2 separate regions of the Homo sapiens genome follow, and region 1 is linked to region 2. The links come from fine-mapping of genetic effects on gene expression. A gene starts in region 2. The other region holds a variant in brackets. All regions are shown on one strand. Distances are from middle to middle.

Region 1 (2,903 bases), 90 kb before region 2:
GGACAAAAAGCATGTCCCACACCAGAACATATTTACAACTCTTCAACTTGAATTCAACTAACATCCAACTGCGGCAATCAGCCAAGCTTGGCAAATTAAAATAACAGTAATTTTGACAGATTATCTTCTATAAATATTCAAATATGAACATTTGTGTTCACGCAAAGGTCTCCATATGCCAATCAAAATGCTTTGTTAAGGATCCTAACATTGAGCTTTTTTCTTCACCCATCTGTAGGAATCCCCTGAATCCTTAACTTCCATTTTAACTCTCTCACCCCAGCTAATTGTGAGACACATTATCTGTCTAGTTGTAGCCTGAATTAAAAACTTAAGGATAACATTCACATAGTATCAACAGACAAAAGGAACCTAGAACCTTTCAAAATCTAGGTCTGTAAAGACAAAAGGAAAGATCCAGGAAGGCAGGGAGGGAAGGGCAGAGAGAGGCTCTTGAAGGATGGCAACCAAATGAAAGATTACCTTTCTATTTGTGTTAGCAGATAGAAATTACTGAAAGTAAAATCTAGATGTAAAGAGAAATTAACAATTTCATAAATTTGGGCTCTATTCAAAGTTTCATTTGGCTCAAGGCAAGATGCTGTGTTTTAATGACAAGTTTAAGTATATGAAACTGTCAAAAGCAGAGAAATGCCATCAGTATGAAATTCACACTAAACACACTTTTTGAAATCTGCAGATGTCCTATCATCAGGAACAATCAATAAATAAGAGTAACAATGGCTTTAATGAAAGCAAGTTATCTGATGCATGAATTTGTTAATTGTTCTATTCTGTCCTCCATTACTCAGTTTCCCTTAAATATGTACACAATTACCAAGCAGTCTCACGCCTTCCAGGAAAATTACAAGTGATAGGCACATTTCTGCATTCAGGGCAGCATTATATTATGGAAGAAAATTTAACCTATTCAGAAGCATATATTTCTCTGATCCTACCTGGAAAGAAACAGCTATAAATAGCTCTACTAAAATTGCTCAAAATATTTCTAGACGGGCAGGCTTACAATAGAAACTCTTACTTTATGATCACTCACCACTCAACCATCCAAGTCCAACACTGGATCTAAGCCAAACCAGTAGTTCTCAAGGGAGGGAAGGGAGTTAAAAAAGTCTGGTCTAGGGACCAGTAGCTCCAGCCTCCCCTGGGAGCTTGTTAGAAATGCACAATCTCAGGCCTTACCCAGGGACATATTGAATCAGAATCAGTATTTTACCAAGATCCTCAACTGATTCATATACACATTAAAATTGAAGAAGCTCTGCAGGAGGGGGAATTTTTGAATGAGTAAAAAAGGCATAATCTTTTCAGAGGTTGGTTACCACTGCAGACCACTGTTTGGCTAATAAGCAACCAATTTTAAAACTTTGTTTATGGGTAACATCATTACTTTTACCATTATTTATTTTACATTTTAAATAAGGGCTTTTAAAAAACAGAAATACCTCAAGAGGCAAAGAAGGAGTATCTAATGATTAAATGTAAGTTACCAAAAAAAGCTGTAACAGAATTATCTCAGAATAAGTGGACCCGGGCCGGGCACGGTGGCTCACACCTGTAATCCCAGCACTATGGGAGCCTAAGGCGGACAGATCACTTGAGGTCTGGAGTTCGAGACCAGCCTGGGCAACATGGTGAAACCCTGTCTCTACTAAAAAGACAAAAATTAGCCAGGCATGGTGGTGGGTGCCTATAATCCCAGCTACTCGGGAGGCTGAGGCAGGAGAATCACTTGAACCTGGGGGGTGGAGATTGCAGTGAGCTGAGATCCCACCACTGCACCCCAGCCTGAGTGACAGAGTGAGATTCTGTCTCAAAAA[A/C]AAAAATAACAATAAATAAGTGGACCCAGCCAGGCATGGTGGCTCACACCTGTAATCCCAGACCACTTGGAGGCCAACATGGGTGAATCACTCGAGGCCAGGAGTTCGAGACCAGCCTGGCCAACATAGCAAAACCTCGTCTCTACAAAAAATACAAAAATTAGCTGGGTGTGGTGGCAGGTGCCTGTAGTCCCAGCTACTTGGGTGGCTGAGGTGAGAGGACTGCTTGAGTTTGGGAGCTCGGGACTACAGAGAGCCAAGATTACACCACTATATTCCAGCCTGGGCATCAGAGCAAGACACTGTCTCAAAAAAAAAAAAGAAAGAAAAGAAAAGACAAAGTAGACCCGTCTCATGCCCCCTCCCCCATCACATTAACTAAACAAATTAATTTTTTAAATAATAATAACAACTTTCCTTCCAAACCCTCAGCATTAAGAATATCTGGGTCTGGGGTCCAAGTAGCTAGGAAAAGAGACCAAGAGACCAAAGGCCTATGGCCTCCTTTGACCAGAAGAGAAGGCTATATATACTGGTTATTCAGCTATTTTCTCTCAGATCCAAATCTACCCTTTAATACTCATCTTTGTAATACTGAAAATAAAACTCTGAAAACTACTTTTCTCTTCTGCAGCTAGCTTCCTCACACTGCCAATAAGGACACTAGAGGGAGAATGCAGTACATGCTTTTTCCAGTCAGCATTGCCCAGCATAGATCCTCCACCCCAGCAGTAGCAGTGATAACCACCAGCTTTTTCTGGCACTCTCAGAAATTCCCCTCAGACATACCAACAGCTGTCAGGAAGTACCCCCTCCAGAGGTTTTGAACCCCAATTCTATGAGGTCCCAACTCCAAGTTCTTATTTCCCCCTCAACCATATGAATAGTGGCTAATTCCTGCAAATATTGTCTCTGTGTTACCCCAGTGTTCCCTGTTTGCTTTTTCAGCCCTCCAATACCTGTATAATCCCTTCCCTGTATTAAATTTTCTGGGCTGAAATTTTTTGTTTTTGTTTGTAATTCTGTAGAGACAGGTCTTACTATGTTACCCAGGCTGGTCTC
Region 2 (2,903 bases):
CTGCAGGACAAACCTCCTAGAACTGATAAATATGGACTCATTTAACCTTCCCAAATAAGTTGATACTCAAAAGCCGCCAGCTCGTCATTTGCACATCAAAAGGGAGTACAGCTGCACTCAAGCCTTTAACTGCCCTGCATCAGTCCCTCGCGGATCTTTGTGAGGGTCCACTCCCTGCTTTCTAGCCCGAGCAGCACTCAGAAAGAGCCCATAACGCACGGGCATCTTCCTCCCCACAAACCGCGACTCCAGGGACCGAGCTGCTGACGAAGGGAAGGTAGGTGTGGAGGGGAAACGACGGACACCTCCCACCCCCGCCCCCAACCCTTCTCCTTCCCTAGGCTTTGGCCCCTGCCCTAGGCAAGGATGCGCGACGCCGAGGGCAGCAGCGGCGCAGCTCCGCGTCCCGGCTGGAGAGGCGGGCGCCCCTCACCCTCTGCCCGCGCCCCCGGGGCTGCGCCAAGGCATCCGCCAGAGCGTCCCGGGGGCTCCCTCCCCACTTTTCCGAGAGCCGCTGGTTAACCGGCAGCAGTTGCAGCAACAGGCCCGGGTGAACGAGCAGGGACAGCCGCGGAGCCTCCTCAGATCCCGCGCGCAGCCCAGCCCAAGACCCCGAGGCGCGCGGGGCCCGGCTCCCAAAACGCCCCCTTACCCCAGGCGGGAGCAGAGGCGGTCTCCGCCGCTCCCCGTCGCAGCTGCCAAAGCCACAGCCCTCAGCCGCAGCTGCCCCACGATGGGGGAGTGGGAAGGGTGGCTGAGTGGAGGATGCTACTCCCGACCGAACGGAGAGGAAGAAACGGAAACAGGAACCGCCGCCGCCGCTTAACGGAGCCTTCGGCGCCACTGACTGAGGCAGAGCGCGAGGCGGCGCGAGCCGGGCAGTCGCTGACAGCGCGAGACCGAGAGCGAGCTGGGTCCAGGGCGCGCGACCCTGAGCAGTGCCGGCCCCATTCCGCGGGGAGACGAAGGGACGGGTCGGCTGGGGCCAGGCGGCGGGGGTGGGATGGGGAGGGGGCCTGGAGAGGAGGGAACCGGCTGCTCGGGTCGGCCGGAGATAACGCGCGCACGCGCCGGAGCGGCTCTGACAACGAGCGCAGGCGGGGAAGCCTCGGCCAGCGCCGGCGTGCGCGCGCGAATGGGGGAGCGCGCCCCTCGGCGTTCCTGGCTTCTGGGAGAGGGCGCGCATGCGCCGGCCGCTGCCACCTACGGCGACCCTGGCATGTGCCAGGGATTCTCCCCGCCCCCTTCCTCGCTGCGCCGGTGGAGAGCGTAGCAGCAGCATCCACCGCCTAGCAGAGCCGCGGGCCACAGCGGGACGGCACAGTTCCAGCAGGGCAGCGGCTGCGCACGCCGGCTCCGGCTCGCACACAGGCGTAGGCCGCCCTCTACCGCCTGAAGGCCGGAGGCTGAGCGGGGCGCGAGCGGATCCTGGATCCCGGGAGGAGACTCGCCTCCAGAGAATGCTGTGCTCCCTACAGCGCCGGGAATGGACCGGCCCGTGCCAGCTCAGTCGGCGGCCCTAGGGGGCACCCGCACTAGAGGTTTTGAAGCTGGCTCCTTGCTACTTTTAGGGGTGCGCGCTGCTGCTGCTCAGCCCCTGCAGCCCGCATTTGGCCGCTTGACTGCTGCTTCCAGCGCGATCCTACAATGGCATCGCTCCCCCAGGAGACTCAGCGAAGCCCTACTTTATCTTGTAAGAGCTGTTTCCACATTCACTCGAAGAGAAAGACCCCCCCCACGAGGGCCTGAGTTCGATGCCCGGCCTCTCCCGACCCGCGGCTGCGACAGCCCCTCTGAGGCGGAAGTTTATTTAGTACGGGAAAGAGAACAGCACGGGGAGAGGGGAGAGGCTTTGCCCTAGGATGCGTCCTACCCGCTCGGACTCGGAAAATTCCCGGCGCCCGCGATGCAGAGCAGTGGACCGAAGGGCTGCCCCAGAGCAGCCCAGACCGCCAGCTGAGCGGGAGGACCGGAGCGCGCCGCCCCAGCACACAAAGTAGTCGCGGGACGAGGGGTGCCGCCGAGGCCAATCAGAGCTGCGCGCCGCGTGAGTGGAGTGCGAGCCGGCCAATCAGAGGGCCGGAAGATGAGCTTCCCGTTCCAAACTCTTCCCTGTAGCCTTGGGACCCAGATCCCAAGCCTGGGGCGCTTTACGGTGGGAGAGCGAAATGGTGCCCTTAAGACAAGAATCATTTCTCTAGGCTTGGGCATTTTAAAGTACATACCGGGGATACTTATCCCAAAGCAAGTAGCGGCGGCCTTTTAGATGTTAAATATTAAAAGATCACAGAAAGGAGATTTAAGAGGCAGTGGCCTGTCAAGGTTGCAATCTGCCTAATATTCATAAATTCACATATTTATTGAGACCTTCTTATGTACCAGGAACTCTATCACAGATACACAAATAAGGTACTGCTGATTCAAAAGAAAATCCCTTGTCCTCAAGCAGCTCAGGTTGTGAGGGAGGCTTTCCTAGACCTTGAGACTCGTATTTATTGTCAGCTCTTTAAACAAAAAGCACTCTATGAAGTGCTGTACTTTACAGTCGTTTTTATGATTATCTCCCTGTGAGAAAAGAAAATTGAAAGGAAAGTAGAGTGACTTGTCCAAGATCACACAGAAGATGTACTAGCAGAGCCAGAATTATGTTCTAGCTCAGTTTGGGTGTCATCATTCAATAAAATAATTCAATAACAATTTGTAAATGCATGGATGCTCTCTCCCATGAGATTTCTGTACTAAACGTATAAGCAGGACAAAATTCTGGTATAAAAGTGACACACTTTGGTTGTTGGAAATGAACACAAATTTTAGACTTATGTGGGATTAAAGGTAAAAATCTTACCAGTCATACTTTAGATAATTTTTAGAAGTCAGAGGTGGGGTGGATATTTACTTCTTAG

Evidence for each region.
Region 1: its variant is fine-mapped to the expression of FUT8-AS1 in whole blood (TOPMed, PIP 0.94).

What each region holds. Positions count from the first base shown.
Region 1 is chr14:65,501,176-65,504,078 of GRCh38, reverse strand. All of the region lies in intron 2 of FUT8 (fucosyltransferase 8), which reads right to left. Among named protein-coding and RNA genes, the nearest start is that of MIR625, 32 kb to the right of the region's middle. RefSeq lists enhancers at 2,329-2,498, 2,529-2,588. The variant A/C (reference allele first, on the strand shown) is at 1,842.
Region 2 is chr14:65,410,964-65,413,866 of GRCh38, reverse strand. FUT8-AS1 (FUT8 antisense RNA 1) reads left to right here and starts at 1,250. Exons shown (of 1, transcript NR_024334.1): 1 at 1,250-2,903. FUT8 (fucosyltransferase 8) reads right to left here and starts at 1,137. Exons shown (of 11, transcript NM_001371533.1): 1 at 653-1,137. RefSeq lists enhancers at 1-396, 1,639-1,958 and silencers at 319-508, 519-638, 939-1,098.